Homo sapiens: one gene and its partner. The protein of the gene in region 2 interacts with the protein of the main gene of each other region in a pairwise test. Each region holds a gene or a part of one and is shown on either strand. Other genes may lie near its edges.

Region 1 (3,908 bases), about 12 Mb from region 2:
TCTCCGAGTCCACCTCCACGCAGCCCCCGCAGGCTGAGGACACTGTGGGGACAGCAGGCTCAGGTCAGGCAGAGGCACCCATTGCCCTAAGCAATGCCAGACCCCTCACAAACCATCTGTTCCCCCCTCAATGATTACCAGCAGACAGGACTGGATGCTAGGCTGAGCCCTGTCACTCACTGCGTGACCTCAGCAAGTCATTCATCCCTGAGTCTCAGTTTCCCTCTCTCTTGTTGAAAGAAATGGTCCTTTGCTTCCAGCAATGGCTGGGCCCATTTTCATACATTAGGTAGGGCCTTGTACATGGGAGGCCCCATAAGTGGGACTGTCAACGTTGCCGGTAACTCAGACTTTATGCTACCCGAGTGCCCCTTCCTCAGAAAGTCCCTTGCTGGAGGAACCCAAGCATCTAGGTGGTAGAATGAGAATTCCAGCTAAGTTAGAAGTTTAAGGTGGCAGTCATTTTCACCATTAAATTGTAAAACCAGCTAGCTCCAGGAGAAATGGGTTGGGAGAAAAGGTCTGGGGGTGGGGGATTGTGGGGAGGTGGGCACTGAAACCGGGGCTGACCCACACTCAGCCCCTCTCCACAGCCCACAAGCCCCTGTGTGAGCCATCCCCTCCCCGGCCTCTCCTGCCTCCATCATCCCCTCTTCCCCAGGCTCCTCGCCTCTAGAGCTCTTCCCACCCCAACCCCATCCACTACTCAAAGCTTTCCTGAGCTCTCTCCTGCCCCAGGGCTTTTGCAGCCCACTGAATTCCAGTCTTAGAATTCCTTCACACTCTTACCTGGCACCTCCTTTCTGCCTCCCAGCACTCTGTAGCTAACGCTGTGTCTCTTCTGCTGCAGCCCTGTGCTGTCCTTGTTTCCTGATCCTCAGGACTTCTCATCCATCCGCCTCCCCTGCGGTCCCTTTCAGACTCCCTGAGGGCCTCTGTCTCAGTCCCTCCTATCTTTGTCCCTCTCAGGGGTCTCTCTGAAGGTCCCTCCACTTTTTGTCCACTCTCTGGGCTCAGAAGGAGACCTCTCCTAATCTCTTTCCACCTTTCTACGTCTATCCCTTTTCAAACTCCATGCAAGATTCTCTCCCGGTGTTCACGGGCACCCGCATCTCCCTCTCTCTTCTCTCCATCTCCTTCTGCCTTTCTCAAGTTTCCCTTTCTCCATCGCGCTCAGTCTCTTAACTCTCTCTCTCTCTCTCTCTCTCCAATACCCCTCTCTCTGTCTCCGTCTCCCCCTTGACCCCCATGTCCCCAGCATCCCAGCGGACCACTCCGGTGCGCTCCGAGTCCTTCTCTGTCTCTCGCCCCCTTCCTCCCGTCTTCATCTCTCCCTGTCCCTCCGTCTTTCCCGTCCCAGTCTCCGGGCGCCGCCTTCCCCCCACCCCCCTCCCGCGGCTGTGGGTGTCACATTGCAGCCTGCGGGGCTCCGGGAGCAGCTGACTCCGCGTTTCCTCGCCCCCGGCTGGGCGCCTGCAGCCGCCAGGCTGTGCCAGCCCGGCCCCCACCCGCTGGAGCCCACCCTCACCTCCACTGCCCTCCCCAAGCCCGGCTCCCGCGCGCACAACTTCTGAAGCTGACTTGGCGGGGCCCGGGGATGGGCCGGGGGTGGCCCTCGCGCGGCTGCCCCGTGTCCCGAGCGCCACTCCCGCCGCCCCGCCAGTGCCCCCGCGGTGCCCCCCGGCCGCGCGCGCCCCCCGCGCACTCACCCAGTGCCGCGCCGACCACTAAGGCCAGCAGCCTCCCCATGGCTGCGCGGCGCGTGCTGCGCCCCCCTCCCGGGCCGCCGGTATTAATAGCGGGGCGAGAGGCGGCGGGACCTGGCGGCGGTTAGAATGTCCCCGGGAGCGCGCGGGCGCAGCAGCTGCGGCTCTGGGACCGGCGAGGGGGGAGGAGGGGGGGCGCGGCCCCCCCGCTCCGGTTACCGCCGGGGGCCCAGCCCCGGGGCCCGGCGTCCGGGCATCCCCGCCGCGCGGGCGGCGGCCGCTGCTCGGGCTGCTGCGCTGGCGCGCGCAGCCGGGCACATCCGCTAGGTGCACCGACCCCGGTCCCGCTCCGGCTCGGGCGCGCTCGGGCGCGGACCGCGGTCTCCTGCGCACTGCAGCGGCGGCGGCGGCGGCGGCGGCGGCGGCCTAGGGAGGGACGAGGGAGGAGAGGGAGGGGGCGGGATGAATCACCGCGGGGGGAAGGCGCGGCCGCCCAGCCTTTGCCGCAGCGGCCCGGGAGGCGCCCGCTGCACCGGCCTCTCCGGGTGGCGCAGGGACCGCGACTTCTGGGAACGGGGAGGGTGGTCTGTGTGTCTCCGACCCCGCTGGGGCTCTGAGGACCACCCCCCCCCCCCCACCTTCCCAGGGAGTCTGGAAAGGTCACCCCCAGAGTCACAGGAGGACTTAGAGCGCAGTTTGGGGGCCGGGTTTCCGACTTCAAATGATGGAGGTCATCCTCAGGAGTTCCAGAGGGCGAACCTCCAAGTTATCTCCCCTGAGCCCTGATATCCAGGCCTGGGGGTCAATGTGCAGGGACCCCAAGTAGGCATTAGAGGAGGGTGGGGGGCCGTCAGGCTAGGACTACAGCTACAATCCGGACCTCACCCAAGCAGGCGGGGCACCCTGGAGAGAAGCAGCCCCGGGAATCTGGAGGTGCTGTTTCAGGAGGAGGACCCCTTCGTGATCCCCTGCACCCATTTATGTCCCTGATGTCACCTTCTACCCCTCTTTCCTCCCACTCCACTCTGGCTGTTCAGGCCCTCCTGCTGTTCCCAACACAGGGAACCCGTTCCTGCCTCAGGGCCTTGGCCCCAGCTCTCCCCTCTGCCCCGGCTCTCCCCCCCTGCCCCGCCCCTCTCCGTGGGCCTCCATGGCTCCAATGTCACCTTCGTCAGGTCTTCTGTGTCCCTTCAGGGTAAACTGCCTTCCCCGCTCCTAACCTGACCTCCTTTACTCTTTACCTCTTGTTGAGTGTTTTCCACAGCAGCCTCACTACCTGACATTATGTTCTTTTTTTTTTTTTTTTTTTTTTTTTTTTTTTGAGATAGGGTCTGGCTCTGTTGCCCAGGCTGGAGTGCAGTGGCTGATCTCGTCTCACTGCAACCTCCGCCTCCCGGGTTCAAGCGATTATCCTGCCGCAACCTCCCAAGTAGCTGGGAGTACAGGTGTGCACCATCATGCCTGGCTAATTTTTTTATTTTTTAGTAGAGACAGGGTTTCACCATGTTGACCATGCTGGGATTACAGATGTGAGCCGCCCCCCGCTATCCCAGCACTTTGGGAGGCCAAGGGGGGCAGATCACCTGAGGACAGGAGTTCGAGACCAGCCTGACGAGCATGGTGAAACCCCGTCTCTACTAACAATACAAAAAAAATTAGCTGGGAGTGGTGGTGGGCACCTGTAATCCCAGTTACTTGGGAGGCTGAGGAAGAATCGCTTGAACCCGGGAGGCAGAGGTTGCAGTGAGCCAAGATCGCATCACTGCACTCCAGCCTGGGCAACAAGAGCGAAACTCCGTCTCAAAAAAAAAGGCCGGGCGCAGTGGCTCACGCTTGTAATTCCAGCATTCTGGGAGGCCGAGGTGGGCGGATCACGAGGTCAAGAGATCGAGACCATCCTGGCCAACATGGTGAAACCCCATCTCTACTAAAAATACAAAAATTAGCTGGGCGTGGGGGCACATGCCTGTAGTCCCAGCTACTCAGGAGGCTGAGGCAGGAGAATCGCTTGAACCCGGGAGGCAGAGGTGGCAATGAGCCGAGATCACACCACTGCACTCCAGCCTGGTGACAGAGTGAGACTCCATGTAAAAAAAAAAAAAAAAAAAAAAAAAAAAAATCTCCCAGGTGAGGATATTGTCTTGTGTCTCTTGCACCTTGAACTGTTCCTGGCACATTGTAGGTACTCAATCAATATTTGTC
Region 2 (3,808 bases):
TGCTGGGATTACAGGCGTGAGCCACCATGTCGGGCCACAATAATATTATTACTATATTATTACTATTTTTTGAGACAGGGTCTGGCTCTGTAGCCCAGACTGGACTGCAGCGGCACTTTCCCAGCTCACTGCAGCCTCCATCTCCTGGGCTCAAGCAACCCTCCACCTCACCCTCCCAAGTAGCTAGGACTACAGGTGCACACCATCATGCCTGATTAATTATTATTATTATTATTATTATTATTATTATTTTGGAGGTCATCTGGTTTCACCATGTTGCCCATGCTGGTCTTGAATTCTGGGGCTTAAGCAACCTGCCTTGTCTCAGCCTCTCAAACTGCTGGGATTACAGGCATGATTGCCACTGTGCCTGACAATAATAATAATAATAAAATTATTATTATTGGAAGCCACTGTTTCTTGAACATTTTGTGTTTTGTGTCAACTTTTTTTTTTTTTTTAGGGACAGATATTGCTCTGTCACTCAGGCTGGAATGCAATGGCACTATCTTGGCTCACTGCAGCCTCGAACTCCTGGGCTCAAGTGGTCCTCCCACCTCAGCCTCCTGAGTACGTGGGACTACAGGTGTGCACCACCACACCTGGCAAATTTATATATATATATTTTTTTTAGAGACAGGGTCTCGCCATCTTGCCAACGCTGGAGTGCAGTGGTGCAATCACGGCTCACTGCAGCCTCAAACTCTGTGCTCAAGTGATCCTCCCACCTCTGCCCCCTGAGTAGCTGGGACTACAGGCAGTGGCCACCACGCAGCTTTAAACACTGTATCACTGAAACCTTGTTTTATTTTATTTTATTTATTTTTTTTTTTGAGACGGAGTCTCACTCTGCTACCCAGGCTGGAGTGCAGTGGCGCTATTTTGGCTCACTGCAACCTCTGCTTCCTGGGTTCAAGCATTACTCCTGCCACAAGCCTCCCGAGTAGCTGGGATTACAGGCGTGCACCACCATGCCCGGGGCTAATTTTTTGTATTTTTAGTAGAGACGGGGTTTCACCATGTTGGTCAGGCTGGTTTGGAATTCCTGACCTCAAGTGGTCTGCCTGCCACGGCCTCCCAAAGTGCTAGGATTACAGGCATGAGCCACCGTGCCTGACCTCACTGAAACCTTATAATAACTGTCTGAATTTGACACTATTGTTATATTTATTCTACAGATAAGGCACAGAGAAGTTAAGTAATTTACCTAAGATCACTCAGCTAAGTAGGTAAAATTTTTTTTTTTGAGACAGAGTCTCGCTCTGTCATCCAGGCTGGAGTGCAGTGACGCAATCTCGGCTCACTGCAACCTCCGCCTCCAGGGTTCAAGCAATTCTCCCGCCTCAGCCTCCTGAGTAGCTGGGACTACAGGCACCCGCCACCATGCCCAACTAATTTGTGTATTTTTAGTAGATACGGGGTTTCATCATATTGGCCAGGCTGGTCTCGAACTCCTGACCTTGTGATCCGCCCACCTCAGCCTCCCAAAGTGCTGGGATTGCAGGCATGAGCCACCGCGCCCAGCCCTAAGTAGGTAAATTTCAAAGTGTGTTAGTCCCCGCTGCAGAACCCCATGCCCTAGAATATTACCATCTCCAAATCTTGGGCTCTGGAGAGCTGGCAGGCAGCACAGCAAGTGGTCCTGAGCAGCCCCGGCCTCCATGACTGTGGGTGTCAGTTGCAGCTGGCTGTGCCTATTTCCTCATCGGGGAAACAAGAGTCATTGAGGTGAACCTACCTCTGGTTTTGGGAGTCCTTGAGGAGTTAAGATTTGTCCAGCACGTGGCACACAGGCTCCGGTAGACAAAGCTGTGGGTAGCACAGGACCCAGGCAGGAGTCCCCACCCCCCCACCCCCACAATGTCAGAGTGACCTGGCCCTGAGGCTCTCTGCTGACTATTATGGGTTGGCTGGCACTGCTCAGCACTCCAGCTGGTGTTGAGGCAACAGGAAGGACAGAGAGGAAGTTGGGGCACTCCCCTCCCCCATGCCAGGTAGCAGTGAAGAGTCCAGGCCACTTGGTGTGTGTATTCGGAGTCTGGCATTCCACTTTCGTATTATTTTTATCCCTAGAGTAAAAGGTGTGCAGAATTTAGCCAGGTGCAGTGGCTCACACCTGTAATCCCAGTACATTGGGAGGCTGAGTTGAGGAGGAAGGATCGCTTGAGGCCAAGAGTTCAAGACCAGCCTAGGCAACACAGTGAGACCCTCTGTCTCTACAAAAAATTTAAAAATTAGCCAGGCATAGTGGTTCGTGCCTGCAATCCCAACCTTTTCTAAGACTGGGGTGGAAGATCACATGAGCCCAGGAGTTTGAGGCTGCAGTTAGCCATGATCGCGCCACTGCACTCCAGCCTGAGCAACAGAGTGAGACCCTGTCCCAAGAAAGAAAGAAAAAGAAAGAAAGAAAGAAAGAAAGGAAGGAAGGAAGGAAGGAAGGAAGGAAGGAAGGAAGGAAGGAAGGAAGGAAGGAAAGAAAGAAAGAAAGAGTACAGCATTTAAAAACTGAACCCCCCCTAGCCGGGCACAGTGGCTCACACCTGTAATCCCAGCACTTTGGGAGGCCGAGGTGGGCGGATCACTTGAGGCCAGGAGTTCAAGACCAGCCTGAGCAACATGGTGAAACCTGGTCTCTACTAAAAATACAAAAATCAGCCAGGCATGGTTGTGGGCTCCTGTAATTCCAGCTACTCGGGAGACTGAGGCAAGAGAATCGCTGGAACCCGGGAGGCAGAGGTTGCAGTGAGCCAAGATCATGCCACTGCACTCCAGCCTGGGCGACAACAGCGAGACTGCATCATAAAAAACAAACAAACAAACAACAACAACAAAAACCCTCAAATTCCTACCAGCTGTGTGGCCTTGGGCAAGTCACCTAAACTATCTGTGCCTCAGTAAAATGGGAATAATAATATTCCTGCCTTAGGGGGTGTTGTAAGAATTCAACAAGTTAGAAGGGTAGAGCTGAGTGTATAGCGCTGGTTTTCAGTGGGTGTCATACGTAGGCTAGCTGCTGTTATCACTGTCCACACGCATCCTCTCACCCCGCAAAGACTCCACCCTTCCTGGCCCTTGTTGATTACAATCCAGAAAACGAAAACTTTCTTTTTTTTTTTTTTTTTTTTTTTTTTTTTTTGAGACGGAGTATCACTCTGTCGCCCAGGCTGGAGTGCAGTGGTGCGATCTCGGCTCACTGCAAGCTCCACCTCCCGGGTTCGCATGATTCTCCTGCCTCAGTCTCCCGAGTAGCTGGGACTACAGGCGCCCGCTACCACTTCCGGCTAATTTTTTGTATTTTTAGTAGAGACAGGGTTTCACCGTGTTAGCCAGGATGGTCTCAATCTCCTGACCTCATGATCCGCCCACCTCGGCCTCCCAAAGTGCTGGGATTACAGGCGTGAGTCAACATGCCCAGCCCAATCCAGGAAACTTTCTGTGCATATAATTTGCCCAGCTGTAAGCCCAAAGCAATGGTATCGTAGATGGCATTTCCTTTGTAACGTCTTAACCAGAAATGGGAGCTTTCAACATACGTTGTTCCATTTCTTCATCTTTTCCACTTAACGTGCCCGATATCTGTTTTCCTGTCTATCTGTACAGATATCAACCCCATTCGTCCTCAAAGCATCAAAAACAGTCCACTGTCTGCCCAAGTGGTGCTTATTAACTAAAGGCCATTCAATAACAATGGTAAGGAGAATAATGAGAAACAGGGCCAGGTGCAGAAGCTCACACCTGTAATCCCAACGCTTTGGGAGTCCTAGGCAGACGGATCACTTGAGGTCAGGAGTTTGAGACCAGCCTGGCC

What was found.
Region 1: the proteins of C5AR2 (region 2) and SCN1B interact in a two-hybrid assay, tested with the Homo sapiens proteins (one large-scale study listed by BioGRID and IntAct).

Annotation. Positions count from the first base shown.
Region 1 is NC_000019.10:35,028,662-35,032,569, reverse strand, and holds the start of SCN1B (sodium channel regulatory subunit beta-1 isoform a precursor), read right to left. Parts: upstream 2,101-3,908; 5' UTR 1,750-2,100; coding exon 1,710-1,749; intron 1,300-1,709; exon of another isoform or gene 790-1,299; intron 43-789; coding exon 1-42. UniProt on the Homo sapiens protein: Regulatory subunit of multiple voltage-gated sodium (Nav) channels directly mediating the depolarization of excitable membranes.
Region 2 is NC_000019.10:47,335,100-47,338,907, reverse strand, and holds part of C5AR2 (C5a anaphylatoxin chemotactic receptor 2), read right to left. Parts: intron 1,814-3,808; exon of another isoform or gene 1,739-1,813; intron 1-1,738.